Regions from separate parts of the Homo sapiens genome. Here region 1 is linked to region 2. A link means that fine-mapping ties the variant in region 2 to the expression of a gene that starts in the linked region. Tissue or cell type: blood mononuclear cells. Region 2 holds a variant in brackets; the other region holds the start of a gene. All regions are shown on one strand. Distances are between the middles of the regions. Region 1 holds the start of TMEM106B (transmembrane protein 106B). Region 2 has its middle 20 kb from the start of TMEM106B.

Region 1 (9,362 bases), 20 kb after region 2:
GACCATGGCTCACATTTTCTTGCTCCTTCATGTCTCATAATCTTTATTATATGCTAGATATTGTATAAAAGAAAACAGTAAATAACATGTACCTCAAAAAACATCTTGCCATTTTTTCTATCAAGATTATTGTTTGGAAGGCTGAATCAAATCTTTCAACAGTGAGTCAAAAACCCACATTCTGGGTTTTGTTGAAGTTTTGATTCAGTTTATTTACTATTGCTTTCAAATATGCTTGAGTTCTTGGCACTGGCAAAATCTCAAGATTAATGTGCACCTACTAGCTCATTCCACCAAACTATTCAATACTTTCTTAGCTCAAACACCTAGCTTCCAATATCTCCACAGGTTGTTCTGTTTACTCTCCAGTCTTGCCGGTCATTTCTGTGCCTCAGGAGAATCCTGGGCAGCCTGCCACCCTGCCTCCAGCCTTCACAGAGCTGCTGCAGTACACTGGTTAAAGGCCTAGAATCTGCAAAGAAATTTCTTCAGCATTCATGCCCTACCCCATGCCTTTAACATATGACATTTGAGCACTTAATGAAGACCTTTAGGAGAGAATTGGAGAGTGAGTGCACACTCGTTCTATCACTGGAACGACATGAGATTGTAATCTATCATCCTGGTCCACACACAGGGGTGTCATTCGGCAGGTCTCCCTTCGGCCCTGTTTATGGTGCATTCCTCCTTCTCCCACTGTTTTGTAGGTGATTAAAGCAACTCTAATTCTATTCTCTCTTAGGAAGCTCTCCTTATCTTTTGGATTTAAGTGTACTTAAATTTGCGTCCTCATTTCTTTGATAAGTTTTTTAAAAATGTTTAAAAAAAAAAAAACCTTCTCTAGCTTGTGTTTGTTGTGAAGAAACAGTCTTTTATAACATAAATCCTAATTGGACTCTGTGTTTTCCTTATTTTATATTCGGAACACCTCCTCAAGGATTTCTGGACCCAATTCTCCTCTTTTCAGCAGCAGTGATGATCACTTAGCAAAAGAGTGAAAATACCCTCTTTTCCCCCCCTAACCAGTTAACTTTACTCACCGTCATCACTTATCTTTGTGTAGTAAAAGTTGAGGACAGAATTCACTCTTCCAAATTTAATACAGATATTCATGCCACAGTGGTTAATAGCTGTAGCTTTGCAGTCAAAATATCCGAGTTCTAGTTGCTAGCTGTGTGGTCATGTGCAAGTCATAATACCTAGGATCCTCTATTTCCACTGTTTGAAATAAGATATGGGATAATAACAGAACCTAATCCATAGCATTTCTATAAAAATTAGATGATATAAACTACTTTACACAATGCCTGGCACAACAAATTCATTCATTGGCCAAGTGTTATTGAACTCCTAAAATTATTCTTACTAGAAATTATGATTATGACAAAAACCCTACAAAAGATGACTTGAATATTTGGGAAAGAAAGTTTTAACACATGGGAAAGATTAGCTCCATGCAGGTGTGAAGCAAGATGAATGAGACAGAGGAAATATAGAAGATCCTGCCTAAGAAGGAGTACAGAGACATAACCAAGAGTTTCAGATAGGTAAGTTATTTGCAGAAATTAATAAAGACCTCTGCTTTTAAAATAATTGGAATGACAAAGATGTGTCAATAGAGTCAGGAGTTTACTGCCTGTGAATGTAAGTCAGGTGGCACAGCGGGAAATGGTAGTTTTGCTAATGGTAGTTTTGCTATGTATCTGGGGCACTATCTCTGAAAATCAGCCAGACAAACTTCAATCTTTTCAATCCCTGGTTTCCAATGTAACCTATCCAGGTTTCTAACATAATCTGACCAGCATATCAGTGGAAGGGGGTGAGCTGAGAGAGACTTATATATTAACATTTGACAAATTATATGTTTCAAAATAATTATGTTCCTTTTCTGCTTATAATTTTTAACAGCTAATTTCTAGAAAAGTAATTTTTGCAAAATTTTTAGTTATGGCTGACTGCTATTAGGATTTGGGTGATTTACCATTAAAAGAGATAAAAGAGAATTGAAATGAGAGATAAGGCTGTTTTCAAGATTTAGTACAACCTAGAGAAATCCCTTAGCTTCAGCATCATACTAAATATAACCAGAAATCATTAAGAAAGAATGTTCTTCTATTCAAACTTATCCCAGACTGTTAAAATTACTGGCCTTTATATCTGATAGCACCTAGACCACTACTGAACTCGGAACTCAAGAAATCACTGTTAATCAAATAATTGGAAGCTTTTCAGAAAATTTTCCTTTCAAAATGTGCTTCAATGAAAAATAAGGCATAGGAACAAATGTACCAAACATTCAATATCTGTCTTTAAAGTACTTCCTTGTTATATGGATGATAAATTTGTAATCATAATATCTAATATTTACTGATTGCTCTGCAGGTATCAGCTCCCATCCATAACCCTTTGAGACAGACATTATTACTATCTTCATTTTGCAGATAATAAAAATTAGGTATAAAGAAGGCTAAGTATTTTGCCCACTCTTACAGAGATTTTGTATATCTCTGTCAGGCTGGGCTCATTTTCAGGCCATATGGCTCCCAAGGCTGTGTTCCCAACCCTGCTACTGAACTGCTTCTTACAGCAACATTCTCCCAGGAAGACTTATTCCTATGTGAATTCCAGGAATTTGGATAAGGAACTGTGCTATATGGCCAGCACGTTTTAAGTTAAATGATGAGGTTGAGAAAATACTAAATACTCCCTTAAGAATTAAAGAAAAAAGTAACTTTTTCACTTAAGAATAATATATATTACATTATAGAACCATTTGCCTATTTAACAATAATAAAGAAAAAACATCCATGCTCTCAAACTACAGGCAACTGTTTATATTTTGTATATTTCTTTCCATTTCAAGGCAGATATGTAATATATTTATATCTATATGTTATCTATATGTGAATATAGTTTACATCCTATTACAATACCTCATATCCTATACTTTGCATCCTGATTTTAATTTTATATCACTCCGCGTATAACAGCCTTATAAGATGGTTTTTACTGGCTTTATAAAAACTCAATAGATGGCTATTCCATAATTTTAAAAACTCAGTAATTCCAAGGGGAACATCATATCTCCACAGGTGGACTGTCAATAATTTTGAGAAAAATTTTCCCCCATGATTCTGATTTGTTTTAACCAACCTATTAATTTTGAAATTTCAAACAGTGTTAATGGAAGACACCCTGACCCTTCCCTTTGGAAAATATGGGCTAAATAAAAGCGGTTGAAAAATAATGATTTTATCAATGTCCCTTGTTGGACATTCAGTTTATTTAAATGGATACACCTCATACCCAAATCTTTTTAGAGTTCTCATTAGGTTTAGGATACTTCTGAAAGGGTGGAATTGCTGGACCAAACGATGTGAACATTTTAATAGTCTTGATACATACTGACTGTCTGCCAGAAAACTTAGGAGTTTTAAATCTCCGACAACATTGTATGAGAAAGCTCATTATCTCACATATGGATCTACAGTAATCCTCTTAAATTGTATATCGTTCTGACTTGTATTTCCTACTTTTACATAGCTTCATTTCCCAATTCCTGTTAGAATTCCCTGATTCTAACAGGATCACACTGATCCTGTTAGAAGAGAGAAATATATGACTCTCACTTCCTTGCTCCTGTGACTGTAAGAATGCCTACCATTCATTAAACGTTAAACTCTCCGCAGGAATGAGACTAGAGTGCCCTTAATATTATTACCGGCATCTCATTGATCCCTCAAAACGACTCCTTGTCGTTGTTCTTATCTTCTAAGTGAAATGACCTAGACGTTGGGGGAGGGCAGCCCCAACCCACAGCGAAGAGCTTAAGTACTGGGATCCGAGACGGGATTTCACACACCTGTAACTAGCACCAGAGTTAAGGGGTGGGGAGGGGCAGCGTGGGCAAAGCGAAACGAAACCGAGCAAAAACAAAAACTACGGCCTTGCCGCTTGCTGTCTCCTTCTAGTTGGCCAGTTTCTAAATTAAAATAGAGGTAGCTTTGCTGCTGTCAGCGGCGTGTGTACGGACCAGTTTATTCCATTCCTAAGGACCAGACTGTCAGCGACAACTCGCATTGCGTGAGCGAGGAGGCTGCTCAGCTGAAAGCTGAGGCAGATGGTGCACATTTATACCCTTTGCAAAAGGAAATGGTCTGATATGGGAAATAGGAGGAGCGACTGTTCCTAGGTAATTCGTGGCTACAGTGGACACTTTGAAGTCTGGGGGACGCGAAGGTAATGAAACCTGAAGAGCGCACAATCTCACACGATCGACGCCTCTGGGCTCAAACAGGAGGAAGAAGGACGCATGCGTCACGCGCACGCCAGGGGTGTCCCTCCGGGAGCGCTCTGCGCAGGCGCGGACGCAGGTTACAGCAGCGCTTGGCCTCTGCTGATGCCGTCGTTATCCTACCCCTCCCCCGTCCCAGCTCTACGGCGGCCGCGCGCTCCAGGCCGGTCGCTCCACCCCCCGGCTCCCGGGACTGTGGACTCCACGACCCTGTCCTCGGCCCTGTCCGCGCCGAAGCAGCCCGGGACTGCGCAGCGCCCCGCGTGCCGGTGAGCGACCCCGGACGTGCAGTCCCCAGGTCCCCTTCCGGAGCGAGGCTGAGCGGCTGCGCCGCGGCTTGAGCCGGGCCTGACAAGGAGGGGAGGCCGCTGGGGTGCTGGGCCAGCCGCAGGTACGGCGGCGGTCAGGGCTGGTGATCGAGTTGCTGTGTCGCCTCTAATGAGGCCCAGCCAGGGAACACTCGGCTTCGGCCCAAGCCCTACCTCTGGGTTGCCTCTAGGCCCTCACACCTTGAGCGCCAGGTGGCCCTCTTCCTTTTGCTGTTGATGAATGTTCTTGCCGTGGTGCCGGGATCTTATTTTGCAGCTTTACAGAGTAGGCTTTGTGCTAGGTGTTGTTTATGGAGCTTTTCAAAGGCGCTTGTTTCCTTAGTTCTCAAGCCCTTTTAGAACTAAAACCAGTGTCTACACAGAAGATCAGGAGCCATTTAAATTGGAGTGCTGTGATATATTTTTTCTCTCCAAACTGAGTCTGATATCCATGTTGACTTTCAGTAAACTAAGGAACCGCTATAATAAATAACACTGAGCCCACAGAGGTTGCAGAAGAGGGTCTAGCACCCCTTTTTTAAACCATTGAGTCTCCCAAGAATAAAAGTGGTTACACTTGTCAGTTCTCTAAGGAAAATCTAGTAGAGAAGGCAAGGGATTCCCAGTTTCTCACAGAGTCTGGCACTTGTCCAAACACCTACCCTAAAGCAGAATCGATCATGGCAGCTATTAGATTAGGACAGAAAACAGGCTCAAACGGAGAGCCACTTGAGTCTGCCTTTCTGTGTCTTTTTTCTCAACGCGCTCCAGTTAAGATGCAGCTTACAGCCTGGCTGTGTTGACTGAGATCCCAGAAAGAGTGCCCTTAAGGCCTTGCTGATAAGGCCCAATGATCCCAATTCATCTAGTGTTCCGCATAGACCCCAAGGTTACAGTGTGTGGGGACAGTGATGTTAAGTCTTCCCTATCCTACCTGTGGCTGACAGGTGTTGATTAAGACAATGATTTTTTAGAAGTCATAAATCATTTGTATTTTTGATGTGGGCAGTGATTTTTATAAATACATAGTTTTTTTTTTTTGAAAGAGTGAAAATCTCATTTTACATTTGTTTGCATACCATTTGTATAGTTTTTTAAATTCTGTTTATTTGAGTGACAGCAACAAGTGGATGGCATGCGAATTTTATTTATTTTTTTATCTTTGTATTTATTTTGTGTATATTCATGGAGTACAAGTGCCATTTGCTACATTGATACACAACATCCTGGTGAAGTCAGAGCCCTTAGTGCATCCAGCACTGGAGCAACACACATTGTACCCACCAAGCAGGCTCCTATCAGGCATGCCAGTTCTAGAAAGTAAAATTTTCTTCATACTCTAGGATGAACTGACTTACTTGGAATGTCTGTTTTGTTTAATCAAATAAGTGAGAATTTTTGAAAGAAATACTATCTGTCTGAATGTATGTAATCTATTTTTAGGAACCGCTAAAAGACATATCAAATTTAGAAGGAGTATAATTATGTTATTTTTCAGTTTTACTTTTTCACTTTATTTTTTCTCAGGATATAAGCAGGAAAATACCAGCAGGGTGTATTATATGACTGTTAAGTTCTTTTCAGCTTTAAAAGGGTATGACCTTAAGTATAAAGTTACTTCATTATCTACCTGCAGAAGTTATTTTTGTGTAGGCACTAGTACTAATTATTTATTTCTACTTAGATTTTTACATTTGTATTGTTATTTTGATACTCTTATCCTAAAATTTTTGAAGTTAGTGTTCTAAATTTTGCTGCTTTGTATTGGTAACTTATATTTAATATTTTGGAACATTGGCTTCATAATTTTAACTGTCAACTGTTGAATGAAAAAAAAACTGTGATTTTGGAATTTTGGGGCTTTTTATTGTTGTTGCGAGTGTTTAAATGTTTAAAGCAAGAAATTTAAGGATGGAAAAGAGTGGTGATTGTATTTATCACAAAGGTGCGTGAATTTTCAGAGGCTGAAACGTACTACTTTGAAGTTACTTGGTGATATACATCAAATACCTAGTTATCGTCTACCCAAAGCAATTTTTGCCTTTAGTGCTAACTAGTTAAAAGGTAGAATGTATTTTTATTTTATTTTAAGAAAAATGAAACCTGCATGTTTCTTTTCAGAGAACCTGCAGGTGTAGACTTTTGTCAAATGTTAATGTTTGAAAGCCCATTCTCATCATAAGCATGATAGGACATCATTTCACATTATTTGTTTAAAAAAACACTTCTGGACTCTAGTAAATGGCTCCTTTGTTTCAGACATTATTTTGATTGGATATAATCCTAATCCAAAAGGTATAATCCAAAAGGTAGTTTGAACATTCTCTTAATGTTTGTTCTGTAAACCAAAAATAAAATTCTGAGCCCCCCAACTAAGTGGAACCCGCTTCTCTGTCAAGGGCATTCCAAAGTAAACCTAAAAAGGTAGTTCAGGCCATGATGAAAAGGTGGGTGGAGGGGATTGAACATGCCCCGTTGTACCTTCCTCTCTTTGGAATTCAGGCACAACTGACCAGCATCAATTAAAACAGAGATTTGAAGACTAACAAGAGTCTCTTTGTAGCAATAAGATATCAAATCCCAACCTGACTCTAATATAGAATCACTCGACAGATAGCAGGCCCTGAGAGAAATTGAAATATCTTACCCCAAAATATATTTCTTTGAAATGGCCTTGCAAAGCTGTCTCTCGTGGGGAAGATCCACATTCTGTACAGAATCCCCTTTCCTTTCCAGATCTTTTCCTAATTCAGCAGCGATTTAACCAAGAGCCTGGAATATTTTAAGGAGTAATAAGAGACATTTACAAACTATTCTCTCTGAAGCCTGCTACCTGGAGGCATCATCTAGATAATCAGAACCTTGGCTTCCACATCCTCCTCCCTTGTCTTAACTACAAACATTTCTTTCTGCTGACTTCAACTCCTCAGGTAGAGTTTAACCGTTTCAACCAATTGCCATTAGGAAATCTTTAAATCCACCTATGCACCTATGACCTGGACACCCCCCAGCCTTCCACCCCTGCTTCAAAATGTCCTGCTTTTCTGGGCTGAATTAATGTATACCTTACATCTATTGATTTATGCCTCTGCCTGTAATTTCTGTCTCCAAAATGTATAATCAAGCTGTAACCCAACTACCTTGAGGACATTTTCTCAGGACCTGTTGAGACTGTGCCTCAGGCCTTGTTCACTCATTTTTGGCTCCGAATAAATCCCTTCAAATATTTTACAGAGTTTGACTGTTCCTTGACTGTTCTAAATTAATTAGTGTAAATATCTCAGAGTGTTCTTGAATGTACTTTTTTCCCTGAAGTTTACTGTAAGATTTTTATTTTTCTTTAGACATGGGAAAGTCTCTTTCTCATTTGCCTTTGCATTCAAGCAAAGAAGATGCTTATGATGGAGTCACATCTGAAAACATGAGGAATGGACTGGTTAATAGTGAAGTCCATAATGAAGATGGAAGAAATGGAGATGTCTCTCAGTTTCCATATGTGGAATTTACAGGAAGAGATAGTGTCACCTGCCCTACTTGTCAGGGAACAGGAAGAATTCCTAGGGGTATGTGTTATTGTATTGTTTTCCCTTTAAATGATTTTAGGTATTTGCTCAAGTATTATAAAAACTGTGGGTCTCAGGAACCACCTGTTTTAGAGGACTCTTAGAATTAAAGTTGAAACATCATATCAGTTACCTTCAGTCAAAAAGATGCAAAAGAAACAAATAAAGTATTAATTAAGGTTCCTAAAGCAGTAAAGAAAACCACCTCACTACCTCCAGTATTTTTTCATTCCCACCTGCTATTATAGCAGATATTCACTGTCTTGTAAATGAAAACTTTTAGTCCTATTTGGCATCTGTAGAGATGACATCATAGTTACTTGCTACTTTGCTATATCAGATGTTAGAAGCAATTTAAGTAATTTGTTGACCTATTTTTTTTTTTTTTTTAAGAGATGAGATCTCGCAATTGTTGGCCAGGCTGGTCTTGAACTCCTGTCCTCAAGCAATCCTCCCACCTCGGCTTCCCAGAGTGCTAGGATTATAGCAGTAAGCCACCATGCCCAGCCAGAGTTAATGTGTAAGGAAGCTTATTCTTTCATGTTATTTTTAAAATTTTATTTTTTTAATAATAAGGATGGAGTTTCCCCATGTTTCCCAGGATGATGTCGAATTCTTGGGCTCAAGCGATCATCCAGCCTTGGCCTCCCAAAGTGTTAGAATTACAGCTGTGAGCCACCACGCCTGGCCAACCTAATATTTTTAATTCATTATCTAAAGAAGAAGAATAAGCTGGCTGTGCCCTAATGAGTTAAAGAAACTCTGTGAAGAGGGATGGTACGTGAAAATGAGCCAAATTGAAAAAAAAAAATTGTTTGTGATATATCATAGGGGACGTCAGAAGGAAATAATCCCCTGTGTGCTGCTTGTAAGCTACTTTAGGAACAGTGGCAATAAGTAGAAATAATAAAGATACTTTATGCTGTTCTCATTATCTTCTTGGTGAAAGTTGATGTGTGACCCTGGAGATACCCAGAGGGAAGAAGGTCAAAGTATAAAGTATACTTTGTGTACCTTTTTAAGATGCTTAAAATGTATCTTAAAATGCTGTGGGTTTGAATTGAAGTTTACATTTGCGTTGGCCTTTGAGTATGATGGTTTTATTTTCACAAGGATAGTAGCTATTTAAGAATAAAATAATTATTGTAGTTGAAGGGATTAATGCACCAGGCTCAGGGGGTAGGGGAGTACTGTTTT
Region 2 (9,362 bases):
AAAGGAAAGGAAAGAAATAACAAAGGAAGGAAAGAGAGTGGAAAAGACGAAGGGACAAAATAAAAGGCAAAGGAAGGAGGGAGGAGCCAAATGAAAAATGGAAGAAAATTTTTATATGATAGAATAAAATTGCCACAGATCTCTAGTCTAGATGATAAAATTAACCTAGTGGACTAATTTTATATCTTCTTTTCCTTTAATCCCACTAAAACATAACTTACCCAGCATCTCTGAAGCCCATTTTGAAAAATACTTCAGAAACTTACTTACCTAGCGCTACAATGTTCATTCCGTTTTCATATTGTTATTTAAATAATGTGTTATAAAGATTCACTATAGACATTCAGCCTAACTCTGAATAGTATTATTTTAAAAACTAAAAATTCCTGCTTTTTAAATTTTAAAATGCTTTGTGTTGCTTTCTCTTATCTGTCTTATTATTGAATATGTCACCAAATACCAAATGGTTTTATACACTAATAGTTCTAGCACCTTAAAAAAGAGATGAAGTTATTATCCAGGATAAAGTATAAATAAAAAATTTGCTGAATCCTAATCTGACCTGATGTGAATTAATACAGACTTCCATTTGTTTGCACCATCACTGTGTAAGGGTCCATCTAGTTAAAAACAGAACATAAGCAAAGAATAAATCAATAGGTATCTAGTTATTTATTATTTTGTATTAACATAGAACATAATTACAGTTTATTCTTATACATTATTTGTTTATATAAAAGCCTACCAATTTTACAGCTTGACTGTTTATAAGCAATAAGAAGGCTTTATAGGATCATCCTATCAAGGTGGGCTACTTGTATAATAACTGGAGTTTACAGAGAATCCACAATTCAGTCATTTGAATGACTGGATATTCATCAAGCTTTAGAGAGAAAATAATTAATCAAGAAGAAATATGTTTCCTATGTTTTCAGGTCAAAATATTACATCTTCTTTGTAAGATAAATGTTATTTCACAGTAAATAAAGTCTACAACATGATTAACCTCATATGAATTAATTGGAGAATCTTGAAGAAGCTAAATATAATGTTTACATTGATGAAGCTAAATCTAAGGTTTGTCTAGTAATTCCAATTTATCATTTTTCCAAAAAAAATTGACATATAGAATTATGCACTGGATGTTCAAATTCAAATACTTTATCATAAACATTTATCCATTTTCCACTATAATTTCTTTTATATTAATTTGAGCCAAATGTAAGATACTGCAGAAATTGTAGCTTTATATGGTTCAGCCTACATGTATCATCAAAAACACTAAGGGGCTTAAATACGAAATAAATAAAAAGAAAATGTAAAGAAGAATGCTGGCTTTTTTAAAGATAGACAAGCCTCTTTACTTGTGTTGTAAGCAAATTATTTGAAAAAAAATTAGGAAAATCACAGAAAGTATTAACATCCAAATGGCTCTTTCACTTTGAAAAACTTACATATAGCATTATGAGGTTGAAATAACCAATGTACGTGTGACATGTAAAATTACACTTTAACTTAATATTATAATCAGTGAGCTAATGGATGAGAGATTAATAAATTAAGACATTTCACTCTACACTGAATAGTTAAGTATGATTCATGCATAATTCTGGTTATAATTTATAGAGATTAACAATGAATTTGTAAAAGAAGAGATCCTTTATTTTTCTTTGAAATTTGACAATGGCAGGGCCTTGTTACCATCTCATGACTTAACAACCATATTGTGATACTAATGAATAACTTGTGACAACTGACACCTGATACTGCTGTAGCCAAAAACCTAGGGAGCAATCTGGCATAAATTTGTTAAGAATGTTAATGTCTATAATTAATTTTAATTCTGAACTAACTGTAAAATTGATACATTTTGGAGGTCATAAAGGTCAATTATCTATGGTGATTTAGGATATTGATACTGAACTGAGAGAAAAAAATGATGAAAACACCACTAATCTCATATTCAGTTTGTTAACTTATAAAATTTACAAAATGTTTAAACCAAATGAAATGTAATCAGATGATTTGAGAAATATTGTCTAGGGAAAGACACTAACAGTACAGAACTTTAAATATTCAAAATCTTCAGTGTAAGGTTGCTATAGTTTGGATCTCCCCCCAAACCTCATGTTGAAATCTGATCACCAACATTGGAGGTGGAGTCTAATTGGGAGAATCTGGCTCATGAGGCAGATTCCTCCCTCATGAATGGCATGGTGCTGTCCTTGTGATAATCAGTGAGTTCTTGTTCTATTAGTTCCAGCAAAAGCTGGTTGTTAAAAGAGCCTAGTCCCTCCTCCTCGGTTTCTTGCTTCCTCTCTTGCCACGTGATCTCCACACATGACAGCTCCACTTTGCCTTCCACCATGAGTAGAAGAAGCCTGAGACTCTCACCAGGAACAGATGCTGGTGCCATGCTTCTTGTCCAGCCTGCAAAACTATCAGCCAAATAAACCCTTTTTTCTTTACAATTTACCCAGTCTTGGATATTCCTTTATAGCAATGCTAAATGAACTAAACCAAAAATCGATATCTAGGAGTTGGGGGGTTGTTAAAGATATCTGAATATTTGAAGGGAGCTTTGAAACTGGGTAATGGACATAGGTTGGATGAGTTTGGAGGGCTCAGAAGAAGACAGGAAGATGAGGAAAAGTTGGAAGTTCTTAGAGACTGGTTAAATGGTTGTGACCAAAATGCTAATAGAAATATGGACAGTGTAGCCCAGGCTGATGAGGCCATAGCAAAGAACTTGGCTGCATTGTTTCCATGCTCCAGGTCTTTTGGGAAGGCCAAATTTAAGAGCAATGACATAGGGTATCTAGCGGAAGAAATCTCTAAGCTGCAAAGCACTCAAGAATTGGCATGCCTACTTTTAAGAGCTTACAATCAGATATGGAAGCAAACAAATGACTTAAAGTTGGAATTTATAACTAAAAGGGAAGCAGAGCATAAAATTTTGCAGGTTGGTCATTTGATGGAGAAGAAAAGAGCATTCTTAGGATAGGAATCCCAGGCTGTTGCAGAACAACCACTTACTAGAGAGATTAGTACAGATAAAAGGGAATCAAATGTTAATAGAACAATGGGAAAAAGACCCCAAAGGCATTTCAAAATCTTTGAGTCCATCCCTCCCATCACTGGCTCAGAGACCTAAAATAACAGGATGGTTTCAGGGGACAGGCCTGGGTCACGGCTACACTGCACCACCTTGGGATGCTACTCCTTAGGTTTTGACCACCCTAACTCTCACCATGGTTCAAAGAGCCCTAGGTACTACCTGGGCTGCTGCTCTGGAAGTTGCAAGCCATAAACCTTGGTGGCATTCATGTGGTGCTAAGTCTGTAGGTACTCAGAATGCAAGTGCCATGGAGGCTTGGCAAATTCCACCTAGATCTCAGAGGATATATTGGAAAGCCTGGGTGCCCGGGCAGAAGTCTGTCATGAGGTAGAGCCACTGAGAGAGCCTGTACTTGGGCAGTGCCTAGTACAGCTGTAAAAACAAAGGCACTACTCTCAGACTACAGAATTATAGAGCCATTGGTAGCATGCACCTTGTATTACTCCATTTTCACACTGCTGATAAAGACAGACCAGAGACTGGGCAATTTACAAAAGAGAGCTTATTTAGTTCCGTGTGGCTGGGGAGGCCTCACAATCCTGGCAGAAGGTGAAAGGCATGTCTCACATGGCAGCAGACAAGAGAAGCGATCTTGTGCAGGGAAACTACCCTTTATAAAACCATCAGATCTCATGAGACTTATTTACTATCACCAGCACAGGAAAGAGCTGCCCCTATGATTCAATTACCTCACCAGGTCCCTCCCACAGCACGTGGAAATTTAAGATGAGATTTGGGTGGGGACACAGCCAAACCATATCATTCTTCCATAGCCCCTTACAAATCTCATGTCCTCACATTTCAAAACCAATCATGCCTTCCCAACAGTCCCCCAAATTCTTAGCTCATTTCAGCATTAACTCAAAAGTCCACAGTCCAAAGTCTCATCCAAGACAAGGCAAGTGCCTTCCACCTATGAGCCTGTAAAATCAAAAGCAAGTTAGTTACTTCCTAGATACACTGGGGATACAGGCATTGGGTAAATACAGCTATTTCAAATGGGAGAAATTGGCCAAAAGAAAGGGGCTATAGGCCCCATGCAAGTCCAAAATCCAGCAGGGCAGTCAAATCTTAAATCTCCAAAATGATCTCCTTTGATTCTGTGTCTCACATCCAGGTCATGCTGATGCAAAAAGTGGGCTCCCGTGGCCGTGGCTTTGCAGGGTATAGCCACATCACTTGCC[T/C]GCTTTCATGAGCTGTCATTGAGCTTCTGGCTTTTCCAGGTGCACAGTGCAAGCTGTTGGTGGATCTACGATTCTGAGGTCTGGAGGACAGTGGCCCTCTTCTCACAGCTCCACTAGGCAGTGCCCCAGTAGGGACTCTTTGTTGGGGCTCTGATCCCACATTTCCCTTCTGCACAGCCACAGCAGAGGTTCTCCATGGGGGCCCTGCCCCTGCAGCAAACTTCTGCCTGGGCATCCAAGTGTTTCCATACATCCTCTGAAACCTAGGCAGAGGTTCCCAAATCTAAATTCTTGACTTCTGTGCACCCACAGGCTGAACACCATGTGGAAGCTGCCAAGGCTTGGGGCTTGCACCCTCTGAAACAACGGCCCAAGCTGTACCTTGGTTCCTTTTGGTCATGGCTGGAGTGGCTGGGACATGCTACTAAGCCCCTAGGCTGCACACAGCACAAGGATCCTGGGTCTGGCCCAAAAAACCATTTTTTTTCCTCCTAAATCTCTGGGCCTGTGATGAGAGGGACTGCTGCAAAGATCTCTGACATGCCCTGAAGACATTTTCCCCATTGTTTTAGTGATTAACATTCGGCTCCTTGTTACTTATGCAAATTTCTTCAGCAGGCTTGAATTTTTCCTCAGAAAATGGGATTTTATTTTCTATCACATTGTCAGGCTGCAAATTTTCCAAACTTTTATATTCTGTTTCCCTTTTAAAACTGAATGTCTTTAACAGCACCCAAGTCACCTCTTGAATGCTTTGCAGCTTAGAAATTTCTTCTACCAGATACCCTAAATCATCTCTCTCAAGTTCAAAGTTCCATAAATCTCTAGGACAGGGGAAAAATGCCACCAGTCTCTTTGCTAAAACATAACAAGAGTCACCTTTGCTCCAGTTCCCAACAAGTTCCTCTGCTCCATCTGAGACCACCTCAGCCTGGATTTCATTGTCCATATCATTATCAGCATTTTGGTCAAAGCCATTCAACAAGTCTCTCTGGAGTTCCAAACTTTCCCACATTTTCCTGTCTTCTTCTGAGCCCTCCAAACTGTTCCAACCCCTTCTTGTTACCCATTTCCAAAGTCACTTCCACATTTTCAGGTATCTTTTCAGCAGTGCCTCACTCTATTGGTACCAATTTACTGTATAAGTCCATTTTCATACTGCTGATAAAGACATACAAAGACTGGGCAATTTACAAAAGAAAGAGGTTTAATGGATTTACAGATCCATGTGGCTGGGGAGGCCCCACAATCATGGTGGAATTTGAAAGGCATGTCTCACATAGTGGCAGACAAGAAAAGAGGGTTCGTGCAGGGAAACTCTCCTTTATAAAACCATCAGATCTTGTGAGACTTACTCACTATCATGAGAAGAGTATGGGAAAGACATCTGTCCCCATGATTCAATTACCTCTCACTGGGTCCCTCCCACAACACATAGGAATTCAAGGTGAGATTTGCTTGGGGACATTGCCAAACCATATCACTCCTTCAGCCTGAAAAAGCCATTGATGTTTCTTCCCACTCATGAAAGCAGCCACATGGAGTACACCCGGCAAAGCTATTGGGGCACTGCTGCCTGAGGTCTTGAAACCCAGTCCTTGAACTAGTCCACAGAATGCAGGACATGAAGTTAAGGATTATTTTGGAGCTTTAAAATTTAATGTCATCCTTCCTGGGTTTTAGACTTGTGTGAGGCCTGTTACCCTTTTCTCTGGGCTGATTTATGCTTTTTGGAATAGGAATCTTTTACCCAATGCCTGTACAACCTTGGTATCTTGGAAGTAAATAACTTTTTTTTTTATTTTACGTGAACATAGCTGGAAGAGACTTGTCTCAGATGAAACTTTGGACTTTGGACTTTTGCTAGAACAAGTTAAGACTTTGGGGGATTGAAAAGGAATTATTATATCTTGCAATGTGAGGAGGACATTATTTCTAGGAGCCCAAGAACAGAGTGCTATAGTTTGGATGTTTGTTCTCTCAAATCTCATGGTGAAATTTGATGTCCACTGTTGGAGATGGGGCTTAATGGGAGGCTTTGAAGCCACAGAGGTGGATCCCTCATGAATAGATTAGTGCCCTCCCTGAGGCAAGTCGCAGGGATGGAAGTGAACTGCGGTGAGAACTGGTCATTAAAAATAACCTGGCACCTTGCTCCCTTCTCTCTTGCTTTCTCTCTCACCATATGAAGAGAGAATTTCTGCACATCTGGCTCCCCTTAGTCTTCTGCCATGAGTGGAAGCAGCCTGAAGCTTTCATCAGATGCCCAATCTTTCAGCCAGTGGAATTATGAGCAAAATAAACCTTTTTTTTCTTTATATACCCAGCCTCAGGTATTCTTTATAGCAACACAAATGGACTAAGACAAAGGTTAAAGACATTTTTAAAATTTAAACACCATTGACAACTTTTTTTTTTAATTTAAAACTAAATTTGAAGCATTTCTCTAGAGGGCAGAATTAGCCGGTAATTATGGTTGAGAGAATGATTCAGTGCCTTCTTGTTTAGTCCAGTACTATCACATTTTAGTTGCTGCTGTTGACACCTTGAGACAATCAAAAACAGAAAGTGGAAAAATACTTTATTAAAATTCCATCTTAAATTTCTTTCTCTGAAAGACATCCTGAGGTCATCAATGACTCTTGTATTTGAATATTTCCATCCAGCATCTAGAACATTAAATATACCAGGACTTCTAGCTATCTAAAATAATAATCCTTGTATTTCAGGCAGTATGGCTTAGAAGATAAGGAAGTGCATTCGATTTCAAAGTTACAATAATGTACAAGATAAATAGGATATTACTAGAGTTATAGCCTACAATGTAATTCATTATTTAGAACCACATAACATTTATTGTGAAATTTCCAAATTCTGTAATGATCAATTTATAAGGTATTGTCAGTATTATTGCATTATAGTAGTTTTCAAGGCTTAACTTTTATATTCCTAGAGTGCTCACTGTGTTGAATTCATTATAAAGACAATGTTCCAACATATATAAAGAAAAAGTAGAAGAGACAAGTCAACATACTGCCCTCATATTTTGGAACATTTTCTTGCAGTCTTAGCCTATTCCGTGCATTTACAGTTCTGTATCCTCCCTTAATACTAATTTAATTAGCTACTTCCATATTTTTTAATTTAAATTTTATTTTATTTTGTAATTTTAAAAACAAAGTTGAAAAATAGTCTTAGGAATACTTCAAACTGTTGGTTATTATATATTTCTGGTTATAAGTCTTTTTTTCATAAACAAAAAGTCTGAAAGAAGATTACACAAACATGGTAAAAAAAAAAAAAAAAACAGAAAAAACTGCTTTACTCACCATTACACACAGATAAAATTTATAAACTATGTCTCTGGATTCTTATTTATCTTTTCAGAAAGAAGCAATCTATAAACTATCCTTTCTTCTAGGAATGCTTTGACATTGACATTCCTGACCAGGTTTCTATGATGCATTGCTTCAGTATACTGATCCAGTATTAGATCCAATACTGATCTGATTTGTGTGGTCATTAGTAAGTCATACTGAATTACTATTTATAAGACAAATTTTCATTAACATGATAAAAATTAAGTTTCAACTGAGAATTAAAAAATGAATAAAAGAGAAAAATAAAGGATTAGATAATAAATACTACTTAATTCAACATGAATATTCATATTCAGTAAATTATGCTAAAATATTCATGTTAAATAAAATATGCTAAAATATTTATATTTAAAAATATGCTAAAATAAGGTCATTTCAAAGACATTAAAACAAACTGGCCTCCTAGAGTCATTCCAGACTGATGAGGAGAAGCTCATAGATCACTCATCATCCTTTGCTCAATGATAGCTTTGATTGATAGCATAAGATATCATCTTTGTATTTTATCTTGTTTAAATCTAAAGTCACACATCATAATATATTTCTATGTTAGCCACTTAGTGTAAGTAAAATAGTATATTTATGTTAGAGACTAAAAATTTATCATAACATCCCCCTAATCGGCATGCAATCCTTAAAGTGCGGCATCAACCTTATAAAGGGGAAAACGGATTACCTGCATACACATACGCGTACAAATATTCATACATCCACAAATTTGGATTCAGACTCATCTGAATTTTCAGCCTTGTGCTTTCCAGTCATACTGTTTCTTCTTTATATGAGAAGGCATAAGCATGAATATAACCATTCTTTTTGTGTTTGTTTTTGTTTTTAAACTCTTCTGTATCTAAGAGGTAAAAATAGATTCTTTTAAAAATCCCCTAATTAATAATAGTAATAACCAAGGTATGTACCCATGTGTAAGCAAATTATTGTAAGAAACTTCAGAATATTCTGTACCAATGTGTAAACATGTCATTGTAAGAAACTTCAAAATATTCTGAAGTAAACTTACAGTAACAACACCCATAAACTAATGTGTTCTGTGACAACTTAGAAAGCAATTCTTTTTCTGTGTGACATTTCATATAAACATGGTACCTTAATCCAAGTTTTATGATTTACTTACAATTATAATTTATTGACCAACATATTTTTTAAATAGACCATTTAATAACCGTATTACAATATGAATAATATCTAGAACATAAAAATATTCTGACTTTGGAGCTGGAGATCAGCCTGGTCAATATGGTGAAACTCCATCTCTACCAAAAATACAAAAATTAGCCAGTCATGGTGGTGGGCACCTGTAGTCCCAGCTACTTGGGAGGCTGAGGCAGGAGAATCACTTGAACCCAGGAGGCGGAGGTAGCAGTGAGCCAAGGTCGTACCACTGCACTCCTGCCTGAGCGACAGAGTGAGACTACACCTCAAAAAAAAAAAAAAATCATTCTGACTTTGAAATCTAATATTTTATGCCTTTGAATAATGCAGGAAAGTATTTAGAGTATAGATGATGAATTAACTAGTTGATAAGAGCAGTATACTAATGAGATTTTGGTTCCTTTACACTTCATTTAGTTTTGCATATCTTTTGCATATCTCAAAAATATACCCTTAAATCTTCAGACTGTGTGTCTTGGATTTCTATGTGTAATGTGCATGTGTATGTAG

The links. PIP is the estimated chance that this variant, and not a neighbour inherited with it, causes the effect.
Region 1: TMEM106B starts here. The variant in region 2 is fine-mapped to the expression of TMEM106B in blood mononuclear cells (TOPMed, PIP 0.97).

What each region holds. Positions count from the first base shown.
Region 1 is chr7:12,206,863-12,216,224 of GRCh38, forward strand. TMEM106B (transmembrane protein 106B) reads left to right here and starts at 4,432. Exons shown (of 8, transcript NM_001134232.2): 1 at 4,432-4,563; 2 at 7,947-8,165. The coding sequence starts at 7,949. RefSeq lists enhancers at 3,831-3,980, 4,114-4,632, 4,191-4,240, 4,633-5,149 and a silencer at 4,421-4,730.
Region 2 is chr7:12,186,631-12,195,992 of GRCh38, forward strand. No RefSeq gene overlaps it. Among named protein-coding and RNA genes, the nearest start is that of TMEM106B, 20 kb to the right of the region's middle. The variant T/C (reference allele first, on the strand shown) is at 4,303.